Regions from separate parts of the Homo sapiens genome. Here regions 2, 3, 4, 5, 6 and 7 are each linked to region 1. Evidence: fine-mapped expression QTL. A gene starts in region 1. Each other region holds a variant in brackets. All regions are shown on one strand. Distances are from middle to middle.

The links.
Region 2: its variant is fine-mapped to the expression of MUC20 in whole blood (TOPMed, PIP above 0.99).
Region 3: its variant is fine-mapped to the expression of MUC20 in whole blood (INTERVAL, PIP above 0.99).
Region 4: its variant is fine-mapped to the expression of MUC20 in whole blood (TOPMed, PIP above 0.99).
Region 5: its variant is fine-mapped to the expression of MUC20 in blood mononuclear cells (TOPMed, PIP above 0.99).
Region 6: its variant is fine-mapped to the expression of MUC20 in whole blood (TOPMed, PIP above 0.99).
Region 7: its variant is fine-mapped to the expression of MUC20 in whole blood (TOPMed, PIP above 0.99).

What each region holds. Positions count from the first base shown.
Region 1 is chr3:195,719,275-195,723,431 of GRCh38, forward strand. It overlaps MUC20 (mucin 20, cell surface associated), which reads left to right and starts at 1,704. Exons shown (of 4, transcript NM_001282506.2): 1 at 1,704-1,809. The coding sequence starts at 1,734.
Region 2 is chr3:195,816,137-195,820,293 of GRCh38, forward strand. It overlaps LOC124905352 (vegetative cell wall protein gp1-like), which reads left to right. Exons shown (of 3, transcript XM_047449429.1): 1 at 1-1,405; 2 at 1,494-1,593; 3 at 2,041-2,640. The coding sequence ends at 2,162. Among named protein-coding and RNA genes, the nearest start is that of MUC4, 6.3 kb to the left of the region's middle. RefSeq lists an enhancer at 294-1,099. The variant C/T (reference allele first, on the strand shown) is at 2,298.
Region 3 is chr3:195,687,361-195,691,476 of GRCh38, forward strand. It overlaps MIR570HG (MIR570 host gene), which reads left to right and starts at 1,138. Exons shown (of 5, transcript NR_122105.1): 1 at 1,138-1,437; 2 at 1,979-2,078. It also overlaps the pseudogene SDHAP2. The variant CAG/C (reference allele first, on the strand shown) is at 2,016.
Region 4 is chr3:195,598,099-195,602,255 of GRCh38, forward strand. No RefSeq gene overlaps it. Among named protein-coding and RNA genes, the nearest start is that of APOD, 16 kb to the left of the region's middle. RefSeq lists an enhancer at 2,633-2,802. The variant G/A (reference allele first, on the strand shown) is at 2,194.
Region 5 is chr3:195,608,855-195,613,011 of GRCh38, forward strand. No RefSeq gene overlaps it. Among named protein-coding and RNA genes, the nearest start is that of APOD, 27 kb to the left of the region's middle. The variant T/A (reference allele first, on the strand shown) is at 2,609.
Region 6 is chr3:195,928,646-195,932,802 of GRCh38, forward strand. All of the region lies in intron 3 of LOC124906253 (keratinocyte proline-rich protein-like), which reads right to left. It also overlaps the pseudogene RNU2-11P. Among named protein-coding and RNA genes, the nearest start is that of TNK2, 22 kb to the left of the region's middle. RefSeq lists an enhancer at 1-174. The variant T/A (reference allele first, on the strand shown) is at 2,262.
Region 7 is chr3:196,033,716-196,037,831 of GRCh38, forward strand. LOC124909478 (a long non-coding RNA gene) reads right to left here and starts at 1,738. Exons shown (of 5, transcript XR_007096234.1): 1 at 1,560-1,738. The variant G/A (reference allele first, on the strand shown) is at 1,826.

The DNA of each region.
Region 1 (4,157 bases):
TCTTCTCTGCCTGCTTTAAATTTGCTGTTATTTTTCTATTAAGATAAAAAACACTGTTTGGATCAGATAGTTTTTCTGTTTGTAAACTGGTGAATTTGTATTTATTTCATGGCTAAATTTCTTTTTTTCTTTTCTTTCTCTTTTTTTTTTTTCTTTTTTTTTTTTTGAGGCAGAGTTTCACTCTTGTTGCCCAGGCTGGAGTGCAATGGCGTGATCTTGGGTCACCACAGTCTCCTCTTCCCTGGTTCAAGTGATTCTCTTGCCTCAGCCTCCCGAGTAGCTGGGATTACAGGCATGCACCACCATGCCTGGCTAATTTTTTGTATTTTTAGTAGAGATGGGGTTTCTCCATGTTCGTCAGGCTGGTCTCCAACTCCTGACCTCAGGTGATCTGCCCGCCTCGGCCTCCCAAGGTGCTGGGATTACAGGCGTGAGTCACCGCGCCCAGCTTTCATGGCTAAATTTCTGAAGTAAAAGCTATAGGATCTTTGTGTGTGTGTATATATTTAAAAGGCCTTTATAATTTCTATAATTTTATGTTTAATTGGCAATTAAATCTGTTTTAATTTCCCTCCAGCACACCAGACTTTTTCTCTCCATACGTTATGATGTAAATTTTGCTATTCGATTTTCACCTCAGTTTCCTTAAAATGCAAATTCAAGGCTATTTAGCTGACAACCGCTTAGAGTAGTAAAACAGGTTATCAAGAATTCGAAGGTGTGGCTGGGCACGGTGGCTCACGTCTGTAATCCTAGCATTTGGGAGGCTGAGCCGCAAAGATCTCTTGAGGTCAGGAGTTCAAAACCATCTTGGCCAACATGTTGAAACCCCGTCTCTACTAAAAATACAAAAAAAATTAGCCAGATGTGGTGGCAGGTGCCTATAATCCCAGCTACTCAGGAAGCTGAGGCAGGAGAATCACTTGAAGCCAGGAGGCAGAGTTTGCAGTGAGTCGAGATCAAGCCATTGCACTCCAGCCTGGGCAACAGAGTGAGACTCTGTCTCAAAAAAAAAAAAAAAAAAAGTAAAAAAGAATTTGAAGGTGTAAGAAAAAAGCTCTTTATGAATCTATAAGATGAACTTCTTTCAGCATACCTAATACATCTGTGTATTTATGTGTTGTTGTGTACACAGTGTTTTGCTACTGAAAATATATAAAAGAGCTCTAATTAATTGGCTTAAGAAAATAAAAGCACTTGGCTGGGTGCAGTGGCTCATGCCTGTACTCCCAGCACTTTGGGAGGCTGAGGTAGGTAGATCACCTGAGGTCAGGAGTTTGAGACTAGCCTGGCCAACATGGTGAAACCCCATCTCTACTAAAAATACAAAAATTAGCCCGACGTGGTGGTGCGCGCCTATAATCCCAGCTACTCCAGAGGCTGAGGCAGGAGAATTGTTGGATCCCGGGAGGAAGAGGTTTCATTGAGCTGAGATCTCATTACTGTACACTCCAGCCTGGGTGACAGAGCAAGACTCCATCTCAAAAAAAAAAAAAGAAGCTAGTGATTCCATATCTTCAAATCAAATTTCAGTGGAGTGTTTACCGGGCAAGGAAGGCAGGGGGGTCAGCTTGCTGACAGCCTCAACCTGCCAGCCCTCAGCCTGCACATTTGTGATCACCTGGTCACACACCTGGGCAGGAGGCTGCCCCTCCTCCCTGGTTTGAGGAAGCAGGAAAAGGTACCCGCGAGAGACAGCCAGCAGTTCTGTGGAGCAGCGGTGGCCGGCTAGGATGGGCTGTCTCTGGGGTCTGGCTCTGCCCCTTTTCTTCTTCTGCTGGGAGGTTGGGGTCTCTGGGAGCTCTGCAGGTAAGGAGGCCTAGAAGGGCCTGGTGGGCCTCTCCCCTAGTAGGGCTCTGGGAGTGAATTTCAGTATGAGCCACCCTTCATGGGCAAGGGCAGGCTCTCTCGGGTTGATTATAATGAACCACAGTGCTACTTGTGAAGTGCTATTATTGTTGATAAAGAGTGTGCAAATGACAGTGTGAGTGTAAGCGTGCATGGCGCTGCAGTACACACTAATCAACCATGACGATGTGTGTGAGTGTAAGCGTGCCTGGCGCTGCAGTACACGCTAATCAACCATGACGCTGCCATCGTAAGGGATGGCTGAGAGTTTGTCTTTATGAACGTGGGACAGTAAGTGGGGCACGGAGCGGGGGTGCAGGGAGGTGCCAGCTGGTGATCATTGTGCAGAAAGCTGAAGAATGTGGCTTAACAAGATTCTGACTCCTCCCAGTTTATTACCTAGCATGGATTTCCTTCAAAATACAGATTTCGTGTGAAAAGTCCAACTGCCACAAACTGCTTGGGAAGGGTGGATGCTGACAGGCAGGGCTTTTGTGAAAGACGGGAATGAACCCTGACCTGTCGCTAATAGGAGTTGTGCCAAACTCATCACATACATTAAAAAATAGAAAAGGATTTATTTTTTTTTTAGTTCTATGCTCCCTCTAAACCTCGAGTGGAGAGGCCGGGCGTGGTGGCTCACACCTGTAATCCCAGCATTTTGGGAGGCTGAGGTGGGTGGATCACCTGAGGTCAGGAGTTCGAGACCAGCCTGACCAACATGGAGAAACCCCGTCTCTACTAAAAATACAAAATTAGCCGGGGGTGGTAGCAGGTGCCTGTAATCCCAGCTACTCGGGAGGCTGAGGCAGGAGAATTGCTTGAACCTGGGAGGTGGAGTTTGCAGTGAGCTGAGATCGCACCCTTGCGCTCTGGCCTGGGCAACAAAAGTGAAACTATGTTTCAAAAAAAAAAAAGCTGCAGTGGAGAGTCTGGAGTTCCCATCCCCACCACTCACAGCCTCCCCCATCATCAGCGTCCCCCACCAGAGTGGCACATTTGATAGGACTGAGGAACCTACTTTGATGCATCATTATCATACATTGTATTTTTAATCCTCACAACGGCCCTGCAAGATCGGCCCTGTTTTTACCACCCCCCACCTCCACTGCTTTAAGGGTGAGGCCACTGTGCTTCTGGGCATCCAGTAACAACTCCTCGGAGCCAGAATCTGACTCCTCACAGGCCTGAGCACTGCACCCCGTGGCCTCCTGCCTGTGCTCACCGTGGCCTGGTCTGCGCTGCACGTGTCCCGTTAGCTCCACCTTACAGGTGCGGAAATGCAGGCTTGGAGCTGAGAGACTTGGCCAGGGTCACAGGGCAGAGAGCAGATTCTCCAACTCAGGGTCCCAAGTCCACACGCTTTCCTCTCCACCAGATTTGAAGATTGTACCAGGAGAGCCGCAGTGTTCCAGAGCTACTGAGGGGCTGGGCTGGGATTTGCTGTATTCGAGAAGACCCCCTTGGACCCGAGAGGCTGTGGGCTTGGGGAGCATGAGGAGGTTTCACAGCAGAAAGGACACCCCGGGGCTCCTGGATAAGCCAGAAAATGTGCCAGGGGAAGTCGGGCTCCAAGGGCACCACTCTGGGCTTCCAGCTGTGTGGGCTGGACCAAGAAGGCTCAAAGAAATGATCTCAGGCTTGAAGTGGGGAGAAGAAACTGTATTATGAAGGCAGACGAACAGTTCCTGCAAAAGTGAGATTTGTGTGTGCAGCTGGGCCGCACTGGACCAGGGATGAGAGTGGGTGCCCGGGACTCGCCTATACTGCCTGGGGGTGCAGCCCGCACTCCTCACTATAGTCAGATCAACTATGCGTGCTTTCCAGTGGCCTGGGAGAGGACTCCATAGGGAGGGATGCTTACCTTGTGGGCTTTGGAATATAAGCCCTTTCACCTTCTCCGCTGGTCCTCATCACGTTGGCAAGGCAGGTATTGTGACCCTGTTTTCTCAGGTGAGGACATGGAGGCTGGGAGGGGTCTAGAGACTGGCCTGGCTAGTAGGAGGCTGAGTCAGGATTTGAACCAGCAGATCATCTGACCCCGGAGCCAGTCGTGGGCGGCACAGCGGGAGCTGCAACCGAGGCTCTTGACTCCTGCGTCGTCATTCCCTGAGGTCCACAGGACAACCAGTTGGGGACCTGGGGCCCCATCCTGATGCCCTGGGGAGAGGTGCTAGGCCCCTTTTGGGTCTATGGGCTACTTTTGGGCCAGTGGAGCTGGGTAAAGACCATCTCAAACCCTGTGCCAGGGGAGGTCAGACTCCAAGAGCGCCACCTTTGGGCTTCCAGCTGTGTAGGCTGGACCAAGA
Region 2 (4,157 bases), 97 kb after region 1:
TCTCCTTACGCAGGTGCCACATCCTCCTGCCCAGCCCGGCCTCCTTCTCCTTACGCAGGTGCCACATCCTCCTGCCCAGCCCGGCCTCCTTCTCCTTACGCAGGTGCCACATCCTCCTGCCCAGCCCGGCCTCCTTCTCCTTACACAGGTGCCACATCCTCCTGCCCAGCCCGGCCTCCTTTTCCTTACACAGGTGCCACATCCTCCTGCTCAGCCCGGCCTCCGCCCTTCTCCTTACGCAGATGCCACATCCTCCTGCCCGGCCCGGCCTCCTTCTCCTTACCAGGTGCCACATCCTCCGCCCAGCCTGGCCTCCGCCCTTCTCCTTACCAGGTGCCACATCCTCCTGCTCAGCCTGGCCTCCGCCCTTCTCCTTACAAGGTGCCACATCCTCCTGCTCAGCCTGGCCTCCGCCGTTCTCCTTACCAGGTGCCACATCCTCCTGCCCAGCCTGGCCTCCGCCCTTCTCCTTACGAGGTGCCACATCCTCCTGCCCAGCCTGGCCTCCGCCCTTCTCCTTACGAGGTGCCACATCCTCCTGCCCAGCCTGGCCTCCGCCCTTCTCCTTACCAGGTGCCACATCCTCCTGCTCAGCCTGGCCTCCGCCCTTCTCCTTACCAGGTGCCACATCCTCCTGCCCGGCCCGGCCTCCTTCTCCTTACGCAGGTGCCACATCCTCCTGCCCGGCCTCCTTCTCCTTACCAGGTGCCACATCCTCCTGCCCAGCCCGGCCTCCTTCTCCTTACCAGGTGCCACATCCTCCTGCCCAGCCCGGCCTCCTTCTCCTTACGCAGGTGCCACATCCTCCTGCCCGGCCCGGCCTCCTTCTCCTTACACAGATGCCACATCCTCCTGCCCGGCCCGGCCTCCTTCTCCTTACCAGGTGCCACATCCTTCTGCCCGGCCCGGCCTCCTTCTCCTTACCGGGTGCCACATCCTCCTGCCCGGCCTCCTTCTCCTTACCAGGTGCCACATCCTCCTGCCCGGCCCGGCCTCCTTCTCCTTATGCAGGTGCCACATCCTCCTGCCCGGCCTCCTTCTCCTTACCAGGTACCACATCCTCCTGCCCAGCCCGGCCTCCTTCTCCTTACCAGGTGCCACATCCTCCTGCCCAGCCCGGCCTCCTTCTCCTTACGCAGGTGCCACATCCTCCTGCCCGGCCTGGCCTCCTTCTCCTTACACAGATGCCACTTCCTCCTGCCCGGCCCGGCCTCCTTCTCCTTACAAGGTGCCACATCCTCCTGCCCAGCCCGGCCTCCTTCTCCTTACCAGGTGCCACATCCTCCTGCCCGGCCCAGCCTCCTTCTTCTTACCAGGTGCCACATCCTCCTGCCCGGCCCGGCCTCGTTCTCCTTACACAGGTGCCACATCCTCCTGCCCGGCCCGGCCTCCTTCTCCTTACCAGGTGCCACATCCTCCTGCCCAGCCCGGCCTCCTTCTCCTTAAGCAGGTGCCACTCCCCTATAGCCTTCACATTCCTTCCACCAACTCAGCATTTGCTTCTGGGAGGACCCGACCCGAGACACTCACGTAAAAGAGGATGCCCACGTACAGATGTGGCAGCAGGCCCTCCGAGCTGGGATTCAGACCCAGGTCAGCACGACTCCAAAATCTTTCCTCCTCTGCAGCTCCTTATTCCATGGTTCAGCAGGGAGGCGGGCGGGCTGGAGGCCCCGGCACCTGCTGTATGTGGTCTCTATCCGAGGCCATGGTGAAAGCAGGGAGGTGGGTGGGCTGGGGGCCCAGCACCTGCTGTATGTGGCCTCTATCTGAGGCCATGGCGAAAGCAGGGGCCCTGGTACTAGGGTCACACAAAGGCCACTGTCATTCTCTTGGGATTCGGTTTCTCCTTTCCCTAAAAGTGCCAAGCATTCTCACGCCAATTAGCTCATTTCCTGTCTCATCTCACCTCTGTGGTGGAGCAGGGCATGATTTTTACGCATGCAACGTCTTCTTACGGGCATCCCTGTGAAGCAGGGCCACCCCGGGGCACAGGAGGGCCTGGAGGTCCAGGGATCTAAACTCATTCCATTCACCCAGCCTTAAGGAGAAGAAAACCGAGGCCAGGAAGTCAGCAAGAACATGAAGTCGGTGACCCAGCATCCAGGTCCCCGGATTTGCCACCTGTGTCCTTTTGTGGGGCTTCCCTTTGTAAAGCTTGAAAGAATAAGAGGATCTTAACATAATTTTAAAACTGGAAGAGACCCTGGTGACCATGTCATCCGAAGCCCTCATTCTACCGTGGAGGAGGTGTGGGCCCAGAGAGAAGGGAGGTCCTTGTTGGCGCAGCCGGTGAG[C/T]GGCAGGGTGTGTCCCGGAGCCCGGGTTTCCAGCGCCCTCTCTGTCTTGCTGCCGAGCGTCCACGTCTGTTCGGTTGTCTTTGCACACTCCTGGCTCCCAGTTAGACCGCTGCTCCCAGGCGGAACGTCTGCCACAGGGGACACGTACATGCGGCCACCATGGGGACTGAATGAGGGTGGGCCCACAAAGCTCTCCAACGCGGGGTTCTGACAGAAAGCCCAACCCGGGCCGAAAGCCATCTTTTAAAATGAAGTTTACTGGGTTTCTTTTTTCATTATAAAGTAATGCACACTGTCCACAGAGATATGAAAATATTTAAAAGTAGAGAGAAGAAAAACATCATCAATGTTTCACCACCCAGGAACAACCCTATTAACGCGTTGAGAGATTTCTGGCTTGTTTCTCATACATAGCTCATATCCATAGTTTAAATCTATCATATCCTAGATATAGTTTGATCTCCTCTTTACCACCTAACTTTATTTATTTATTTATTTATTCATTTTTATTATTTATTTATTTATTTTGAGACAGAGTCTCGCTCTGTCACCCAGGCTGGAGTGCAGTGGTGCGATCTTGGCTCACTGCAACCTCCGCCTCCTGGGTTCACGCCATTCTCCTGCCTCAGCCTCCCGAGTAGCTGGGATTATAGGCTCGTGCCCCCATGCCTGGCTAATTTTTGTATTTTCAGTAGAGACGGGGTTTCACCATGTTGGTCAGGCTGGTCCCAAACTCCTGACCTTGTGATCCGCCCGCCTCAGCCTCCCAAAGTGCTGGGATTACAGGCGTGAGCCACTGCGCCGGGCCATGACCTAGCTTTAAACCTAAAAGTCTCCCCAATTATTATAAAACTCCATTCACACATTTCTGAAGGCCACGTGATACTGCATTGGCTGCCACCATAACTGAACTAACTTGGACACTGGGTTATTCACGGCGTCCCTGTTACAGGTAATGCCCGGATCAGAGGCTTTGTACCCAAAGTGCCTTCTGTGTTCAGGATCATTTCCTGAACCTGGAAGCAGAGCTGGTGTGTTCTGATCGGCGGCTCTGACCCTCCTTCTACAGTCAGAAGTCCATAAACATGAGCTTGCTCTGTCCAGGATGTCGGCACTTTTTTGGACACTTGTGATCAATTAACCCTTTTAATGTTGATGGTCTAATGGCGGAAGCAGAGCTGACAATGGGGCCGGGCGCTGTGGCTCACGCCTGTAATCCCAGCACTTTGGGAGGCCGAGGCGGGCAGATCACCTGAGGTCGGGAGTTCAAGACCAGCCTGACAAACATGGAGAAACCCCATCTCTACTAAAAATACAAACTTAGTAGAAATGTTGGTGGTGTGCACCTGTAGTCCCAGCTACCTGGGAGGCTGAGGGAGGAGAATCACTTGAACCTGGGAGGCGGAGGTTGCAGTGAGCTGAGATCACACCACTGCACTCCAGCCTGGGCAACAAGAGCGAAACTCCGTCTTGAAATAATAAAATAAAATAAATAGAATAATTACTCCGGAAGCCTAAAAATGATGGGTGGATTAAAGACTCTGCAGGTGGGTGGGGAAAAGGTGGAGAACCCCTTCCCATCCCAGCTCTTTCCTGGGTGAGCTCCCAGCTATGATCCAGGACCAACTGCCAGGCTTCTCATTTTGATACTGGACACTATGCTTAGCCCAGCGACTGTCCTGAAGAAAGTGATCCAGACAAAATTTGAACAGAGAAAGAAGGCAGTGAGATTAGCCCATCAGGCTGGAAAGTGAGACTTGTTCCTTGTTCCCCTTGCTCCCTGGGGAGAGGAGGCACCAGCTGAAGCTGGCCAGGGGACAGAAGAGGGGTCTGGTGAGCTCTGCTCCCCGGTGTGCAGGG
Region 3 (4,116 bases), 32 kb before region 1:
AGAGCATTACTGTGTGAGCTCCGCCCCCTGCCAGAGCATTACTGTGAGCTCTGCCCCCTGTCATCATTACTGTGTGAGCTCCGCCCCCTGTCATCATTACTGTGTGAGCTCCGCCCCCTGCCAGAGCATTACTGTGTGAGCTCCGCCCCCTGCCAGAGCATTACTGTGTGAGCTCCGCCCGCTGTCATCATTACTGTGTGAGCTCCGCCCCCTGTCATTACTGTGTGAGCTCCGCCCCCTGTCATATCATTACTGTGTGAGCTCCGCCCCCTGTCATATCATTATTGTGAGCTCCGCCCCTGTCATATCATTGCTGTGTGAGCTCCGCCTCCTGTCAGATCAGTGGTGGCATTAGATTCTCATAGGAGTGGAATCCTGTTGTGAACTGCGCATGAGAAGGATCTAGGTTATGCCCCGCTTATGAGAATCTAATACTGATGATCTGAGATGGAACCGTTTCATCTCCAAACCATCCCCACACTTGTCAGTGGAAAAAGTGTCTTCCGTGAAACCAGTCCCTGGTGCCAAAAAGGTTAGGGACTGCCGGTTTAAATAACCAAATGCTAAAAGAACTGGCATAGAAGTAAATGGGCTGCTGCTTTATTTTTAGGCTGTTCTTTTTAGAGAGCAATGACAGTTATTTCCAAGTTTGTCATTAGAAAATAATATTAGGTTGGAGCAAAAGTAATTGCAGTATTTGCCATTGCTTTCAATGGTAAAAGGCACAATTACTTTTGCAGCAACTTAATATTATAAATTTGTTCTTAAAGTGTATTTTTGATAAGAAAGCCGTTTTGTTTTTCCTTCTGTTAATTTTTTGTTTTTTTCTTGGTCGAGACAGAGTCTTGCCATGCTGCCCAGGCTGGAGTGCAGTGGTGTGATCTCGGCTCACTGCAGCCTCCACCTCCTGGGCTCCAGCAGTCCTCCCACCTCAGCCTCCCTAAGAGCTGAGACTACAGGTGTGAGCCACCATGCCTGGCTAATTTTTAGAGACAGGGTTTCACCCTCTTGCCCAGGCTGGTCCCAAACTCCTGGGCTCAAGCAGTCCTCCTGCCTCAGCCTCCCAGAGTATTGGGATTATAGGTGTGAGCCACTGCCAGAAAAACGTTTCCTAAGACAAGGCAGGTCTTACATTATATTTAAATTTTTTTTAATGATGTCTTTTTTGGCAGTGCACAGCCAGAGGACAACACATCACACACAAGAAACAGTTGTGCTCATGTGATGGGGGCCTCAGCACTAGGAAGGAGTGGACTGTTGGCGCACGCAGCAGCTTGAATAAATCTGAAAGTCACTACGCTGCGTAAGAGAAGCCAAATAAAGCGCATGCTGTGTACAGAGGGTGTCGAGAATGCCTCCTACGTGACGGAAAGCAGATCCGTGGTTCCCTGCAGACTGGCAGGAGCAGATTCCAAAGGCACAGGAAGAAGCTTGCAGGTAGAATGTGTTCATTACCTTCTGCGCATTATACCACAAAAAAGCTGGGAATAAAAATGCTAACCAAAAAAAAAGGTGAAAGTAGATAAAATTTCTCAACTGTGTGATGGGTAAACGTGCAGGTTTGCTGTCATGCTTTGTTTATGAAGCTGTGGGGTACAAGGACTCTCATACGTCACTGTGGAATGCAGAACGTTGCAGCCTCATGGAAGAGGATTTGGCAGCATCTAACAAAACGACATGGCATTTGCCCTTAGACTCAGCAATTCTAGAATCTGCCTCAAAAAAAACTCTGGCAAAGAAATGAAAGGACTTTATCCACAGAGTTCTTTTCACAGCCTGAATGTGTTTGCCACAAAGTTCTTCACTGTGGCATTTGTAAAACTGGAAACAATCAAAATGTCCATCAGTAAGGGATTAGGAACATTAATTCGTGCAGTGGGGAACTCCGTACCAGAAGGAGGAATGAGGAACGCCTATTGATAAGGGGCAGAGTACATATAATATAATGCAAATATATATTTGCTTTTTCTTAAAACAGTACAAAGATAAAAATCTAAAGTGGTTGCTGTGGAGGA[CAG/C]GGGTCAGTGGTGGAAGTGAGACCGAAATAGACTCTGAAGTAATATCTGGACTTTGAAATTGTAAGTGTTTTACATATTACCAAACTAAGTTTTTAAGATAGTCCCTAAAATTGAAAGAATGGTATCTGAAATGAATGAATCTAAATTCCTTGGATTGCATTCTACAGGCGCCAACCCTGAGACAAAAATTTGGAAGGTGGCCCTGAGCAGCAGCTGAAGGGAAGTGGGAGGTGAGACAGGAAAGAGGCGGCAGCATGGGGCGTCCGGGAGCCGGGTCTCATGTGGACAGCTGGGCCCGTGTTCACTGTGGGAGCTGGTGCGTTCCTTCACCAGCCCACGCTGCACAGGTTCAGGATGGTCAATTCCGGGCACCCCTGGCCTGCTCCAGGACATGCTGCTGCCACCAGAGAAAGCCCCTAGGCAGCGTCCCGGGTGCTGGTGGTGTCAGAATCGAGTTTGAGTCTGAGGAGTGACCTGGGGCTGGCTGGGCTAGGCAGCATCACGGGGTTCTGCAGCCCAACTGCACATCAGGCTGGTGACAGTCACGCAGCCTATTACTTCATGTGTCATCAGAGGATCGCTAGAACACAGCACTTCAAGTGTGCAGATTTAGTGAGCCATAGTCTAAAGACAAATAGAGCCACTGAATCCTAAATTTCAATCAATCATCTCCGTTACTCGTCTTATAGGTATTAATCCTTTGAAATTATGTGGGGTGGGAGTTAAAGCAAATAACTAATTATGTTAATGCTAAAACTAAGATTTTTCTGGCAAGGGAAAATCCTCCCAAGTCCCAGCACTTTGGGAGGCCGAGGTGGGCAGATGACCTGAGGTCAGGAGTTTGAGACCAGCCTGGCCAACATGGTGAAACGCCATCTCTACTAAAATTGAAAAATTAGCTGGGCATGGTGGCAGGTGCCTGTAATCCCAGCTATTGGGGAGGCTGAAGCAGGAGAATCGCTTGAAACAGGAGGCAGAGATTGCAGTGAGCCGAGATTGTGCCACTGCACTCCAGCCTGGGCAACAGGAACAAAACTCTATCTCAAAAAATAAAACAAGATTTTTCTGAGAAAAAGGTGTAAAACCGTATACTAAATTTGAAATAGAAATATAAGCGTGAACTCATTTGTTGTTCTTTTACCGTAGACACATTTTCTACCTCTGCCCCAGTAGCAGTAGACACATCAAGCACCTAGAAAGTGGTCTCTAATACATGAAAACCATGAATTCATAGTGGTGGTTTCAAAGCCAAAACCAAACAAACACATGTAATTGGTCACTCTTGGAGGTACCTAGGGCACTAACTCCTAACACTGGGAATGGACACTTGAAGGAAGATCAGTAATTATCCTGTCTTTTCTCTACAAATTGCAATTCAGGGAAACCTTGTTGATTAGGGAAAGTTCTTTACATAAGAATTCCTGCAAGTAAGTGAGTAAAGAATGACAGTTTAAGAATTGTCCCAGCCTGGCCAACATAGTGAAACCCCATCTCTAAAAATACAAAAAATTAGCCAGGCATGATGATGGGTGCCTGTAATCCCAGCTACTCAGGAGGCTGAGGCAGGAGAGTTGCTTGAACCTGGGAGACGGAGGTTGCAGTGAGCCGAGAGTGCGCCACTGCACTCCAGCCTGGGCAACAAGAGTGAGACTCTGTCTCAAAAAAAAAAAAAAAGAATTGTCAAATTGCTACCCCTAATGCCATGGTTCTCTAACCTGTGTAACAGGATCAGCTGGAGGGACGCTACCCCAGACCTTCCAATTCAGTCCTGGGGGGACCCTAGTCCAGACCTTCCGATTCGGTCCTGGGGGGGCCCTAGTCCAGACCTTCCAATTCAGTCCTGGGGGGACCCCACCCCAGACCTTCCGATTCAGTCCTGGGGAGACCCTACCCCAGATCTTCTGATTCAGTCCTGGGGGGACCCTCGTCCAGACCTTCCGATTCAGTCCTGGGGGGACCCCACCCCAGACCTTCCGATTCAGTCCTGGGGTACCCCACCCCAGACCTTCCGTTTTCAGTCCTGGAGGGACCCTACCCCAGATCTTCCGATTCAGTCCTGGTTCGGTCTGAGAATTTGCATTTCTAACATGTCCAGGGA
Region 4 (4,157 bases), 120 kb before region 1:
GGTTTTACAAATTCCAAACGATTTTGCAGAGGAACTGGAGTAACCTACCACAGAGCAGAAGAGACGGACTCAAACTCCAAGTGCATCTGGTCTTCGTGGAGTTTGTCTTGAAACCAGAAGAATTTCCTCCGTGTGTTGTTCTCAGTCTTATCCATACAAGATTGTTCAACACTCAATCTAGAGGACATTTGTTGGATATAAATGTCTGTCTCCCTATAGCACAAAATAACTAGGACATTATTCCATGGAACATTCCATGCGTCCATAGAATAGTTTATTCCATGATCCAAATGGTCTGATTGATTCTTCCACCAAATTCCATAACTAATTACTCTCTGTGTGTGTGTGTGTGTGTGTGTGTGTGTGTGTGTGTGTGTGTGTGTTTGGGGGTGTGGTACTGATTAGCCAAGAGCTGAAGCCCTTGAGCTCCGGGAGAAAAGCACCCTTTTCTGAAAGCTTCTCATGGTGGGATCAGAGCCAGCCTTAGGATTTTAGTGACAGGTCTGAGACCAATATCAAGAGGGAAGAAAGAAGGGTCTGGATGATTTTGAAGCTATTTTTGTGGGAAAACGAGATGACTCTCTCATGCAGTACCAACCAGACCTGGAACTCAGGCACACACATACAGTGCTCCTATTATTCTTCCCTCAGAAGGAGGCTGGTCCTCTCTCCTCCACATGCTTCTAGTGCAGTGAGGGTCCATTCCTGACTCTCCCTCTGTCTCCACCCCTCACACCTCTCTCTGACACGGCCCTTGAGGCTCATTTCACCCATTTTTGCCTGGGTGAAAATAATGGAGGAGGGCAGTGATCCTGCCCCACACCTGACCCCCACCCATCAGCCCTTGCAGGGCTGAACAAGCTGAACTTGGGGATGAGATAAGAAAGAGTCCTGAGAAAAGAGGAGAAGCAGAGGAAGACCAGAGTTATAACTTGGGGACAAAAGTGACCTTGCCTCTTTTTTTTTTTTTAATTTTGTATTTTTATTTTATTTTATTTTATTTTTTTGCAAATAGTGGGATCATAATCTTTTTTGTTTGTTTGTTTGTTTGTTTGTTTTTTATTGATCATTCTTGGGTGTTTCTCGCAGAGGGGGATTTGGCAGGGTCATAGGACAATAATGGAGGGAAGGTCAGCAGATAAACAAGTGAACAAAGGTCTCTGGTTTTCCTAGACAGAGGACCCTGCGGCCTTCCGCAGTGTTTGTGTCCCTGGGTACTTGAGATTAGGGAGTGGTGATGACTCTTAACGAGCATGCTGCCTTCAAGCATCTGTTTAACAAAGCACATCTTGCACCGACCTTAATCCATTTAACCCTGAGTGGACACAGCACATGTTTCAGAGAGCACAGGGTTGGGGGCAAGGTCATAGATCAACAGCATCCCAAGGCAGAAGAATCTTTCTTAGTACAGAACAAAATGGAGTCTCCTATGTCTACCTCTTTCTACACAGACACAGCAACAGTCTGATTTCTCTATCTTTTCACCACATTTCCCCCTTTTCTATTCCACAAAACCGCCATCATCATCATGGCCTGTTCTCAGTGAGCTGTTAGGTACACCTCCCAGACGGGGTGGCGGCCTGGCAGAGGGGCTCCTCACTTCCCAGACAGGGCAGCCGGGCGGAGGCGCCCCCCACCTCCCTCCCGGACGGGGCGGCTGCCGGGCGGAGACGCTCCTCACTTCCCAGACGGGGCGGCTGCCGGGCGGAGGGGCTCCTCACTTCTCAGATGGGGCGGCTGGGCAGAGACGCTCCTCACCTCCCAGACGGGGTCGTGGCCGGGCAGAGGCGCTCCTCACATCCCAGATGGGGCGGCGGGGCAGAGGCGCTCCCCACATCTCAGACGATGGGCGGCCGGGAAGAGGCGCTCCTCACTTCCCAGACTGGGCAGCCGGGCAGAGGGGCTCCTCACATCCCAGACAATGGGCATCCAGGCAGAGACGCTCCTCACTTCCCAGACGGGGTGGCGGCCGGGCAGAGGCTGCAGTCTCGGCACTTTAGGAGGCCAAGGCAGGCGGCTGGGAGGTGGAGGTTGTAGCGAGCCGAGATCACGCCACTGCACTTCAGCCTGGGCAACATTGAGCACTGACTGAGCGAGACTCCATCTGCAATCCCGGCACCTCGGGAGGCCGAGGCTGGCAGATCACTCGTGGTTAGGAGCTGGAGTCCAGCCCGGCTAACACAGCGAAACCCC[G/A]TCTCCACCAAAAAAATACGAAAACCACTCAGGCGTGGCGGCGCGCGCCTGCAATCGCAGTCACTCGGCAAGCTGAGGCGGGAGAATCAGGCAGGGAGGTTGCAGTGAGCCGAGATGGCAGCAGTACAGTCCAGCTTCGGCTTGGCATTAGAGGGAGACCGTGGAAAGAGAGGGAGAGGGAGAGGGAGAGGGAGAGGGAGACCTTGGGGAGAGGGAGAGGAAGAGGGAGAGGGAGAGGAAGAGGGAGAGAGAGAGGGAGCGACCTTGCCTCTTGTTGATTCCACATTCCCTTCCTTTGGGAAGATTTACATTCTCTATTTTATAGTAATCTGCCCAGTCCATATGGTTGGATGAGACTGGCTGGCTTTATCCTCTACCACCACTGCAGGGGGCAGGTGCATTACCCAGCCTGGACCCTTAGAGCAATCCCTCAGGCAGGACCCTGCATCCAGAGTGGTCAATCTTCCCTCAGATGTTTGCTGAATCTTTCAGGGAATACTCTCTTTTTCTTCCTTCAGTCACTACCATGAAGGACCTTGTCCACCCAGAACTTCCAGGGACCACATTTCAGGTAAGAGCCTTTTTGAGAATAAAGCAAAACAGAGGAACCATGGATCTATCACGGAACCCTTGGATCCATCTGTCCCTCAGGCAGAACCACCAGTTACTAATACAGGTGCATAGAAAGGAGGAGATCAGCCTGAGCACGGTGGCTCACGCCTGTAATTCCAACACTTTGGGAGGCCGAGGCGGGTGGATCACCTGAGGTCAGGAGTTTGAGACCAGCCTGGCCAACATGGTGAAACCCTGTCTCTACTAAAAATGCAAAATTAGCTGGGTGTAGTGGTCCATGCCTGTAATCCCAGCTACTTGGGAGGCCGAGGCAGGAGAATCACTTGAACCCAGGAGGCGGAAGTTGCAGCAAGCTGAGATCCCACCACTGCACTCCAGCCTGGGTAACAGAGTGAGACTCTGTATCAAAAAAAACAAAACAAAACAAAACAAAAAAAAAAACTAGAAAGGAGGAGATCAGAGGTGAATGTCCTCATCTTCTGGTGATGCTGTGACCAAAACTCAAAAGGACACGATGGAGAACCAGGAAAACCAGTGCTGTAATTCATTCCAGGCCTAAAGGCCCAAGAACCAGGAGCTCTGATGTTGAAGGGCAGGGGAAGATGGGCATCCCAGCTCAAGAGGAGAGGCAGAATTCATCCTTCCTCCACCCTTTTGCTCCTTTGGGCCCTCCATGGATTGGGTGATGCCTGTCTACATTGGTAAGGGTGATTTTCTTTACTCAATCAAATGATTCAAATGCAAATCTTTTCCAGAAACACCCTCACAGACACGCCCAGAAATAAATTCTTAGCAGCAATCTGGGCATTTCCTAGCCCAAGTGTTACTGGAAAGGGGTCCCGATCCAGACCCCAAGAAAGGGCTCTTGGATCTCATGCAAGAAAGAATTCAAGGTGAATCCATAGAGTAAAGTAAAAGCAACCTTACTAAGAAAGTAAAGGCATAAAGAATGGCTATCCCATAGACAGAGTGGCCCCAAGGCCTGCTGGTTGGCTATTTTTATGATTATTTCTTGATTATATGCTAAACAAGGGGTGGATTATTCACGAGTTTTCTGGGAAAGGGGTGGGCAATTCCCAGAACTGAGGGTTTCTCTCCTTTTTAGACCATATAGGGTAACTTCCTGACATTGCCATGGCATTTGTAAACTGTCATGGTGCCTGTGGGAGTGTCTTTTAGCATGCTAATGCATTGTAATTAGCATACAATGAGCAGTGAGGATGACCAGAGGTCATATTTGTAGCCATCTTGGTTTTGTCGGCTTCTTTACCACAATCTGTTTTATCAGCAAGGTCTTTGTGACCTGTATCTGTGCTGACCTCCTATCTCATGATGTGACTTAGAATGCTTAACCTCCTGGGAATGCAGCCCAGTAGGTCTCAGCCTTGTTT
Region 5 (4,157 bases), 110 kb before region 1:
GAAAGAGATCTGACCTGGCCAACCTCCCTCTTGCCTTTAGCCTTCAAGCTGCTTTTAATTATTCCTGGGTTTAAGCCAAGCTACATGTGGGAGTCATTTAGTTTATAGTTTAAATGATAGTAACCCTTCCCTCAAACTCAACCAGCCTTGTAACACTGAGAGACCACCAGGCTAGGAGGAGGAGATGAACCTAAATTCTGCTAAGGTGTAGACATAAACAACTGTGAGGCATTATTCCAGAAGCCACAAGATATGCAACTTCCTCAGTTACCCCTGCAGATAATGTTACTTTTGTAGAACCTAGGATTGGCCTTCTGAGATATCTTCTCAGGATTTTTTGCATGTCTGATGACCGATGGCTCCACCGGGACCAGCTAGTGGCTTCTGTTTCCCCACCCAGAAGCAACTCAGAGAAAGAGGACAGCTTTGACGCCCTATGATTTCATCTCTGACCCAATCAGCACTCCCCATACCCTAGCCCACTACCTACCAAATTACCTTTGAAAAATCCCTAACCTCCAAGACTTAGATGAGTTTGATTTGAGTAATAACTCTGCCTCCCACATGATGTGGCTGGCATCATATCAATTAACCTCTTTCTTTACCGCAATGCCATGGTCTCCATGAACTGATTTTTTTTGTGCAGTGGGCAGGAAGAACCCATGGGGCAGTTACACATCTTGAAAGAGAAGCTCTTCCTGTGAGGTACATCAACTGTGGTTAAGAATCTTACGTACTTATCATTTTTTGTTGTTGTGAGAACATTTAACATCTACTCTTTTCTTTTTCTTTTCTTTTTTCTTTTTTTTTGAGGTGGCGTCTTACTCTGTTGCCCAGGCTGGAGCGCAATGGCGTGATCTTGGCTCACCACTACTTGCTGGGTTCAAGTGATTCTCTTGCCTCAGCCTCCTGAGTAGCTGGGATTACAGGCATCTACCACTCTTTTAGCAATTTTATTTATTTATTTATATAATTTTTTAAAAAATATCTTTAACTTTTATTTTAGATTCAGGTGGTATATGTGCAGGCTTGCTATATGGGTATATTGCGTGATGCTGAGGTTTGTGGTATGAGTGATCCCATCAGCCAGACAGTGGGCATTGTACACAAGCAATATACATAATGGTGTGGTATGGTGGCACATACCTGTAATCCCAGCTACTTGGTAGGCTGAGGCAGGAGAATCATTTGAACCCAGGTGGCAGAGGTTGCAGTGCACTGAGATCATACCACTGCACTCCAGCCTGTGCAACAGAGTGAGACTCTGTCTCAAAAAAAAAAAAAAGAAGGTGGTTTTATAATCAGCTATAAAACTCTAAAAGGTGCTCTTGAATGCAGGTTTCTGCTAACTTTGGAGATTGTGACATTAGAATAGAGGAAAAACTTTCGGGACTCATGGAGAGCTGAAATGTTCATGAATATCAAGCAGAACAGGAATTAACTGCATGGACTGAAGTAATCTTTTTGACTTTTTGCTTAAAACGTTGTTGATCTTTTGTTTTGTTTTTTCAGAGTCAAGGAAACTTTTCTTTTGAGCTATTGACAGCTTTTAACAAGTTATTGTACTCCTATGAACAAAATTTGGAGCATATTCATTTCTCTCTACCTGATTTCTCCAGAATTTGGCAACTGTTTGTGAGTATCCTTATCACAATATAGTTATTTGCATAAGTGCAATAATAATCTGTCTTTATTTGTAACAGGACACAATTGGAGAAACTGGTTATTTTACCAGCACTTTGACTAGAATGATGTGCTTTCCTTTAAGGAATTAAACTTGTTTTATGGAGCCAGTAAAAGCCACATGCTCTGTCTACACAGTCGCTGAACAGGGTTCCTGCCCTGTGGTAAGTAAAGAATGTCACTTTCCGACAGGCCCAGGAGCCCCAAGTTTTACCTTGGACCCTCAAAAGGAGAGGAATTCATGCAACTCATAGGTATTTGATGGTACAAATCCATGGCAGGGCTCAGCTTTAAACAAGTCTTTTCTGAGATTCCTTCTATGGAACAAAGTTTCATCAAAGCCAATTTAAAAGCCTGTGTAAAAAAATAATTATTCTAGCTGCACTGTATACAAATAATCAGGCCAAGAATAATAAAGGAAATCAGTCCTACCATGATTTGTCTTTAGTAAAAATGAGAAACTGGAGAGAGAAAAACTATGTTTTAAGAACTATAGTACACCTGTTGTTAGATTCTAGTCTTGCCTAATGTTTTTCCATTTTTATTATTTTCTGCAGTTTGGACCAAATTCTAATTTTTCTTGGCTACAAGTCTTCAAAATAATGTTTTCCATTTTTTCCCTTTCTTTTTTCCCATTTTTCCTAATTTGGAGTTACTGAAAGCTAAGCTGTGCTTTTTGAAGCCCTGTGAACTGAAGCTAGACAACTTAAACTTCAGAAGAAAATAACAGCAGCCTATTTACATATATAAGCTACTTTCATACCTGCCTACTGACGTATGGACTTCAGAGTAATGTGGCCTATATCGATTTTCTAGGATCGTTATTTTGTTTGTTGTTTTTCTCCCTTCCTCCCCCTATTTTCTCTTCACAGGACATGAGGATTCTCAACCTGCTAATAATGAGCTACCTATCTAGGGTAGCTAT[T/A]GGGACCTACCTATCTAGGAATAAACCATCCTAGCCATGAGAGACCCGATGAAACCTCAGACCAGAGACTCATTTTCTTCTAAAATGCTTTCTCCAAAAGATTTTTAAAAAGAAAAGGGGGAAATGTGAAAGGAAACTGTCTTGGGCCCCCCAAAATCATGAAGCTAAAGAGAAAAGTCAAGCTGGGAACGGCTTAGGGCAAACCTGTCTCCCGTTCTATTCAAAGTCACCCCTCTGCTTACTGAGATAGATGCATATCTAATTGCCTCCTTTGGAGAGGCTTATCAGAAACTCAAAAGAATGCAACCATTTGTCTCTCACCCACCTGTGACCTGGAAGCCCCCTCCCTGCTTGAGTTGTCCCACCTTACCAGACTGAACCAATGTTCGTCTTACATATGTTGATTGATGTCTCATGTCTCCCTCAAACGTGTAAAACCAAACTATGCTCTGACCACCTCGGCACATGTCACCAGGACCTTCTGAGGCTGTGTCATGGACGCGAGTCCTCAAACTTCGCAAAATAAACTCTCTAAATGAACTGAGACCTGTCTGAGATATTCGGGGTTCACAGTTTGCTGTCTCTCTTCACTAGGAGAGTTGTTCCGTGAAGGCCGGGATCTCTTTTACTGAGTGATGTATTCCAAGTGCCTGGAGCAATGTCTGGCATGTAGAAGGAATTCCGTACGTGCATTAAATTAATGAACTAGCCTCCTACGCTCATTCAAGGTGAGAGCTGAGTTTGGCTAAAATATGGCCCAGGAACTTTCTGCATAAGACTCTTATGGCCCCCAGGGCTAACAGTCATCTGCCCAGGCTTGTAAATTTCCCAAATACCGAGGAAAATGGTCCAAAATTCAGCAAACCCAGGGAAGCTCTCAGCCAGGCTTCCTTTCCAGGGATTCCTCACTTCCTCATCTGCAACAGGCTGGGGTGGACTCACTTGCTGCTGGAATGAGGAAGCCCCTATCCCTGCGGGGGCGGGGCTGGAGGAGGGCTGGGGTGGCTGAGAGGAGCTGCATTGGTGCTTAGTCTCTTCTCCATCTTCCCTTGGGCTAAGCCTCACAGTGGGTCGCAGCTACTAGATGGGGTCTAAGAGAATACAGTCCTTGCTGTGGCCCTGCCCTCCTCTCCCTACCTGACTCCTCCTGGGGGGAGTCCTTGTCTCATTTGATAAGCAAAGAGCTGGGGCTGAGTGGAGGATGGAAGGGGCTCAGCCTACAGATCAATGGTGTCCAAGATCCCCACCCCAAGTGCTGGGTTTTGTCCCCTATGGACCCCCCTCAGCCTCTTCTGGGGAGTCTTCCTCCTCCTATTCCCTCCCATTCCCTCCTTCTTCCCAGCAGCACAGCCCAGAGCAGAGTAAATTTCTGGAAGACAATGTCACGCCCAACGCAGAACCCCAGACCATGGGGCCAAAAGGACCCTGTAGATCATGTTGACGGAGGCCCAGAGAGGGCAGATAACTTGTATGTTCACACAGCTTCTTGGTCAGTGTTAAGAGTAAATTTCTGGAAGACAATGTCACACACCCAATGCAGAACCCCAGA
Region 6 (4,157 bases), 210 kb after region 1:
AACAAGCTCCTATTCTATTTTCTTGCTCTAGACGCCCATTTAATATATTGTCCTCAGATAGAGGACATATCAAATACTAAACTAATAATATAGACTACACTTAATCTTTGCCGAAAGGCTGAGAAAGAATTGTTCTTCTTTAAAAAAGAAAAAAAAAAAAAAAAAAAACACAACTGTTTCTGGCCGGGCACGGTGGCTCACACCTGTAATCTCAGCACTTTGGGAGGTTCAGGCGGGCAGATCACTTGAGGCCAGGAGTTCAAGGCCAGCCTAGCCAATGTGGCAAAACCCCGTCTCTACTAAACATACAAAAATTACCTGAGTGTGGTGTCAGACGCCCGTAATTCCAGCTACTTGGGAGGCTGAGGCAGGAGAATCATTTGAACCTGGGAGGCGGAGGTTCCTGTGAGCTGAGATTATGTCACTGCACTCCAGCCTGGGCAACAGAGAAAGACTCCATCTCAAAAATAAATAAATAAACAAACAATACAAAATAAAATAAAATAAAAAATTGTAACCAAGCGCAGTGGCTCATGCCTTTAATCCCAGCACTTTGGGAGGCTGAGGTGGGTGGATCACCTGATGTCAGGAGTTCAAGAACAGCCTGGCCAACATGGCAAAACCCTGTTTCTACTAACAATACAAAAATTAGCCAGGCGTGGTGGCAGGCACCTGTTATCCCAGCTACTGGGGAGGCTGAGGTGGGAGAATCCCTTGAACCCAGGAGGCACAGGTTGCAGTGAGCTGGGATCACGCCACTGCACTCCAGCCTGGGCGACAAAGCAAGACTCCATCTCAAAAAATAAAAGCTTCTCTAGGCCCTCCATATTTCCATATAACTCTTAGTATCACGTTGTCAATTTATGTAAAAAAGCCTTGAATTTTGTATGGAGTTGTGTTAACTCTATAGATCAATTTGGGAAAATTTGACATCTTAACAATTGCTATTGATTGAATGTCTTTGCCCGCCTCCCAGATTTACATGTTGAAACCTGATACCCAGTGTGGTGGTATTTGGACAAGGGGACTTTGGGAGATGATAAGGCCATGAGGATAGATCCCACATAAATGGGATTCGTGTCCTTACAACAGAGACCTTAGAGAGCTGCCTCCCTCCCTCTGCCATGTGAGGACACAATAAGAAGACAGCTGTCTATGAACAGGAAAGCCAGTCCTCACCAGATACCAAATCTGCTGCCTCAATCTTACACTTACCAGCCTCCAGAACATGAGAAATAAATGTTTGCTGTTTAAGCCACCTATATTGCTGTAGCAGCCCAAACAGATTAAGACAATCATACTGAATCTTCCAATTCATGAGATATATTTTTGCCAATTCAGAAATGTGGTATATTAATTGAAATCTTTAATTTCTCTCAGCAACATTTTGTAGTTTTCAGCATTAAAAATTTTAACATCTTTTGTTAAGTTTTTTCCTAAGCATTCCATGTTCTTTAGCACTATTGTAAATTAATTTTTAATAATTATTTGATGCCGTTACATAATACAAATGATTTTATTTATTTATTTTTTTGTAGAGACAGGGCTTTGCCACATTGTTCAGGCTGGTCTTAAACTTGTGAGCTCAGGCATTCTTCCTGCCTCTGTCTCCCAAAGTTCTGGGATTACAGGCATGAGCCACGGCTCCCAACCAAGAATACAAATCATTTTAATATAGCAATCTTGTATCCCGTGACCCTGACAAATTCATTTATTCATTCTAGAAGTTTTTGTAAATTTCTTGGGCTATTATACAGGAGCAATCATAAACTTTGCAAATAAAGATAACTGTACTTATTTCTTTTTTAAAAAAATTTTACTTTAAGTTCTGGGACACATGTGCAGAGCGTGCAGGTGTGTTACATAGGTAGACACGTGCCATGGTGGTTTGCTGCACCTACCAACCCATCATCGAGGTTTTAAGCCCTGCATGCATGAGGTATTTGTCCTAATGCTCTCCTTCCCCTTGCCCCCAACCCCCGACAGGCCCCAGTGTGTGATGTTCCCCTCCTTGTGTCCATATTGTTCAACTCCCACTTAGGAGTGAGAACACGCAGTGTTTGGTTTTCTGCTCCTGTGTTAGTTTGCTGAGAATGATGGGTTCCAGCTTCACCCATGTCCCTGCAAAGGACATGAACCCATTCTTTTTCATGGCTGCGTTTAATTAATTAATTAATTAATTATTGAGACAGAGTCTCCCTTTGTCACCCAGGCTGGAGTGCAGTGGCACAATCTTGGCTCACTGCAACCTCTGCCTCCTG[T/A]GTTCCAGTGATTCTGCTGCCTCAGCCTCCTGAGTAGCTGGGATTACAGGTGCCCACCACCAAGCCTGGCTAATTTTTGTAATTTTAGTAGAGACGGGGTTTCACCGTGTTGGCCGGGCTAGTCTCAAACTCCTGACTTCAATGATCCCCCCGCCTTGGCCTCCCAAAGTGCTGGGATTACAGGCGTGAGCCACGGCACCTGGTCCAATTCTAACTGTTTCTGATCATTATAGCTTTTCTTTCTTTTTCTAATCTTATCACATTGGCTAGGGCTTTCCCAACAATGTTGAAAAGGTGGTGAGAGGAAAGTGGAGCAAGATGCTCAAGTAGGGCCCTCCAGCAATCACCCCCCACCCCACCCAACCCCCGGCCCCACCCACCCCCACCCCACCCCTGCCCAGGACCACTAAACCGAAAACTCTCAAGTTGAGAAAAAACCTGCATAAGAACCGAAAATCAGATGAACAACTGCAGTATCTGGTTTTCATATCATCTCAAGAAAAGCACTGAAGAGGACAGGAAAGACGATCTTGAAATGCTAACATCACCCATCTCCTACCCCATGGCAGCAGTCCCACGGCATGGAGAGAGAATCCGTGAGCTGGGGGAGGTAGAGCACAGTGATGATGGGACTTTGCACGGCACGGAGAGAGAATCCGTGTGCTGGGGGAGGCAGAGCACAGTGATGATGGGACTTTGCATGGCAGGGAGAGAGAATCCGTGTGCTGGGGGAGGTAGAGCACAGTGATGATGGGACTTTGCATGGCAGGGAGAGAGAATCCGTGTGCTGGGGGAGGTAGAGCACAGTGATGATGGGACTTTGCACGGCAGGGAGAGAGAATCCGTGAGCTGGGAGAGGCAGAGCACAGTGATGATAGGACTTTGCATTGCCACTCGGTGCTGCCCAGTCACAGTGGAAAACAACACAGGGCAGCACTCACAGACACAGCATTTAAACCAGCCCTAGCAAAGACAAATCCTCAATCTCAGTGGTGTGAACCTGAATTCTAGCAAGCCACGCACTGCTGGCTAAAGAGCTCTGGGATCCTAAATAAACTTGAAAGGCAGCCTAGGCCACAGGGACTGCAATTCCTGGAAATACCCTGGAGCCAGTGGACTTGGGGTGCACATGACCTAGTGAGACACCAGCGGGGGCAGCCCAGGGAGTGCTTGTGTCAACCCTCACCCACCCCCAGGCTGCGCAGCTCACAGCACTGGGAGAGACTCCCTCCTTCTACTGGATGAGAGGAGGGAGGAGGATAAAGAGGACTTTGTCTTGCCACTTGGGTACCAGCTCAGCCACAGTAAAATAACTCACCAAGCAGAGTCCTGAAGCTCCCCTGTTCTAGGCCCCAGCTACTGGACAACATTTCTAGGCACATACTGGGCCAAAAGGAAACCTGCTGCCTGGAAGGAAAGGGTCTGTCCTGGCAGCCTTCTTCACCTCCCGACTAAATAGCCCTTGGGCCTTAAATAAATATCAGCAGTAGCCAGGCAGGCAGCACTCACCACAGGCCTTGGGGGAGACTCAGAGCCTTACTGGCTTTAAGTGTGACCCAGCACATCTCCAGCTGTGATGGCCACAGAAAGAGGCTCCTTCTCCTTGAGAAAAAGGGAGAGAAGAGTAAAGAGGACTTTGTCTTGCACTGGAGGTACCAGCTCAGCCATAGTAAATAAAGCAGCAAGCAGATTCCTGAAGTCCCAGATTCCCAGCCTTAGTTCCTGGATGGCATTTCTGCACCTGCTCTGGGCTGGAAGGGAATCTGCCGCCCTGAAAAGAAAGACACAAGCCTGGCTGCATTTGCCACCTGCTGACTAAAGAGCCCCTGGGGCTTGAAGAAACATCAGCGGTCACCAAGCAGTTCTTGCCACGGGCCTGGGGTGGTAGCGGCCATG
Region 7 (4,116 bases), 310 kb after region 1:
TGGGAGGACTGCTTGAGCCCAGGAGGTTGAAGTTACAGTGATTGTGCCACTGCACTCCAGCCTGGGGGACAGAGGGAGACACCAGTCTCAAACAAAACAAAACAAACAAACAAACAAAAAATGTAGTAAAAATGGCCATTGTTTCCTTGTTCTTGATTTTATAGATGAACAATTCAGTTTTTTATCATAAATTTTGGATGCTAGCTGTAAGTTTTATTAGGTGCCATTTTATTAGTTTGAGAAAGCTTCCTATTATCCCTAGTTTTATAATGAAACGGTGTAAATCTGCACAAGATGCTATTTCTGCATCTATGGCATGATCATGCATTTTCTCCTTTATTCTGTCAATATGGTGAATTACCCTGATTGATTTTTCATGACTTTATTGATATATAATTTACATACAATAAAAATCATCCTTTAAGGCGGGGCACGGTGCCTCATGCCTGTAATTTCAGCACTTTGGAAGGCCAAGATGGGCGGATCGCTTGAGCCCAGGAATTGGAGACCAGCCTGGCAACATGGCGAAACCCTGTCTCTACAAAAAAATACAAAAATTAGCCAGACACGGTGGCATGCACCTCTAATCCCAGCTACTTGGGATGCTGAGGCAGGAGGATCGCTTCAGCCTGGGTGATGAAGGCTGCCGTGAATGGTGATTGCACTACTGCACTCCAGCCTGGGCAACAGAGTGAGATCTTGTCTCGAAAAAAAATTGTTAAAGACATTAAATTAAAAATATTTAAACAAAGGCTGGGTGCAGTGGCTCACGCCTGTAATCCCAGCACTTTGGGAGGCCAAGGCGGGCAGATCACAAGGTCAGGAGTTCAAGACCAGCCTGGCCAACATAGTGAAAACCCGTCTCTACTAAAAATACAAAAATTAGCCGGGCGTGGTGGCACGTGCCTGTAGTCCCAGCTACTCGGGAGGCTGAGGCAGGAGAATCGCTTGAACCTGGAGGCGGAGCTTGCAGTGAGCCGAGATCGTGCCACTGCACACCAGCCTGGGAGACAGAGCGAGACTTCTTCTCAAAAAAAATAAATAAATAAAAAATTAAACAAAGTAATGGTTGGTTGGATGCAGAAAATAGTTTAAAACATTTTTTAAATTAAAAAAATCACTCTTAAAAAGTGAATTCACTCTTTAAAAGTGTACAATTCGGTGGTTTTTAAGACATGCACAGAGCTGTATAACCAGCACCCCTACCTAATTTTAGAACATTCTGTCACTGCAAAAAGAAACCCCATACCCATTAGCTGTCACTCCCCGCTTCCTCCTCATCCAGCCCATGGCAATCATTCATCTACTTTCTGTCTGCGTAGATGTGCCTGTTCCGGGCATTTCACAGAAATCAAATCATACCTATGTGGTCTTTGGTGAAGGGCCTCTTTCACTCAGCATAGTGGGTTCAAAGTACACCCGTGTTGTAGTACTTTATTCCTATTTTTTAGAATGTTTTATTGTGGTAAAACACACATAACATAAAATACACTATTTTAGCCACTTTTAAGTATACAACTCAGTGGCACTAAGTACATTCACAATGTTGTGTAACTCACCACTATTTCCAGAGCTTTCTCTTCATCCTAAACAGAAACTCTGTGCCCATCAAGCAGTAACTTCCCGTTTCCTCTGTACCCCAGCCCCTGGCAACCTCTATTTTACTTTCCATCCCTGTGAATCTGCCTAATCTGGGTACCTCATATAACTGGAATCATACAGTATTTGTCCTTTTATGTCTGACTTATTTCACTTAACATAACGTTTTCAAGGTTCTAAAATACAAAAGGTTCCAAAAATACAAAAATTAGCCGGGCGTGGTGGC[G/A]GGCGCCTGTAGTCCCAGCTACTTGGGAGGCTGAGGCAGGAGAACGGCGTGAACCCGGGAGGCGGAGCTTGCAGTGAGCCGAGATGGCACCACTGCACTGCAGTCTGGGCGACAGAGCGAGACGCCGTCTCAAGGAAAAAAAAAAAAAGGAAGGGCAAAAACCGCCATTACTTTTCCGCCAACCCAAATCGTTGGGTGACTCAGCGCATGCGCATTCCTCTGCGGGGCCACATCTCAAGCCACAGGCTTCCCAGAGCCTATAGGAGAGATCCCACATTAATTTAATTTAATTATTTATTTATTTACTTACTTTTTTAAAAAAATTTATTTGAGACAGAGTCTCTTTCTGTCGCCCAGGCTGGAGTGCATTGGCTCAATCAAGGCTCACTGCAGCCTCGACTTCCGCGGACTTAGGTGATTTTCCCACCTCAGTCTCCCGAGTAGCTGGGACTACAGGCGCACGTAACCCCCAACCCGGATAATTTTTGTATTTTTTGGTACAGACGGGGTTTCGCTATGTTAGCCAGGCTGTTCTCGAACTCCTGGCCTCAGGTGATCCGCCTGCTTCAGCCTTCCAAAGTGCTGGGATTACAGGCCTGAGCCACCATGCGGGGCCTGAATTTCAAATTAGGTTTTTCTATTTCTGCAAAAAACACCCCTGGGATTTTGAAAGGGATTTTGCATTAACTCTGTAGATAGGCTGGGCAGTATTGTCATCTTAACAACTACGCCTCCCAATCCCCAACATGGAATATCCTTCCATTTATTTATGTCTTCTTTAATTCTTTTGGCAATGTTTTATAGTTTTCAATACATAAGTTTAAGTCTTGTGCCTCCTTCGTTAAATTTATTCCTGTGTATTTTTAATTCTTTTTGATGCTTTTTTTTTTTTTTTTTTTTTGAGACAGAATCTCACTCTGTCACCCAGCCTGGAGTGCAGTGCAGTGCAGTGGCACAATCTCACTGCAACCTCCGCCTCCCAGGTTCAAAAGATTCTCCTGCCTCAGCCTCCCAAGTAGCTGGGATTACAGCTGCGTGCCACCACACCCGACTGATTTTTGTATTTTTAGTAGAGACGGGGTTTCACCATGTTGGCCAGGCTGGTCTCGAACTCTTGACCTCAGGTGATCCACCCACCTTGGCCTCCCAAAGTGCTGGGATTACAGGCGTTGAGCCACTGCACCCAGCCAGAATTGTTTTCTTAATATCCTCTCGGAATGTTCATTGCTAGTGGATAACAATGCAGCTGATTTTCGTGTGTTGATTTTGTATCTTGCCATGTCTCTGAATTCTGGAGTGAGATGTAACCATTTTATTGTGGATTCTTTAGAATTTGCTACATGTAAGAGCGTGTCTTCTGTGAACAGAGGTGATTTTACTTCTTCCTTTCCAGTTCAGATGCGATTTATTTTTGGCCGAGTTGCTGTGACTACAACGGCTACTACTGTGTTGAATAGAAGTCCTTATCTTCTTTCTGATGTTTGGGGTAAAGTTTTAAGAAATTCACCATTGTATATGATATTAGCTGTGGGTTTTTCAGATATAACCTTTATTATTTTGAAGGAATTCCCTTCCATTCCTAGTTTATTGACTGCTTTATCATGAAAGTGTGTTGGACTTTGTCAAATACTTTTTCTGTATCAATTGAGATGATCATTTGGGGTTTTCCCCTTCATTCTATTAATGTGGTGCATCACCTTGGTTGATTTTCCTATGTTGAACCATCCTTGCATTTACAGACTAAACCTCACTTAGTCATGGTATATAATTATTTTGATAAGCTGCTAAATTTGGTTTGCTAGTATTAAACATTTTGCATCAATATTCATAATGGCGGACGGGCACAGTGGCTCACGCCTGTAATCCCAGCACTTTGGGATTCCGAGGTGGGTGGGTCACGAGGTCAGGAGTTCGAGACCAGCCTGGCTAACACGGTGAAACCCCATCTCTACTAAAAATACAAAAATTAGCTGGGTATGGTGGTGCGCGCCTGTAATCCCAGCTACTGGGGAGGGTGAGGCAGGAGAATCGCTTGAACCCGGCAGAGGGAGGTTGCAGTGAGCCGAGATCGTGCCACTGCACTCCAGCCTGGGCGACAGAGCGAGACTGTCTCAAAAAAAAAAAAAAAAAAAAAAGAAGAAGAATTCACCAGTGAAACCATCTGGTGAAGAAAAGGCCAGGTCTTACTGATTCAACCTTAGTAGTTCAGAGTCTATTCAGATGTTCTACTGCTTTATGAGTCATTTCTGGTATATCGTGTATTTCTAGGAATATGTGCATCTAATCTAGGT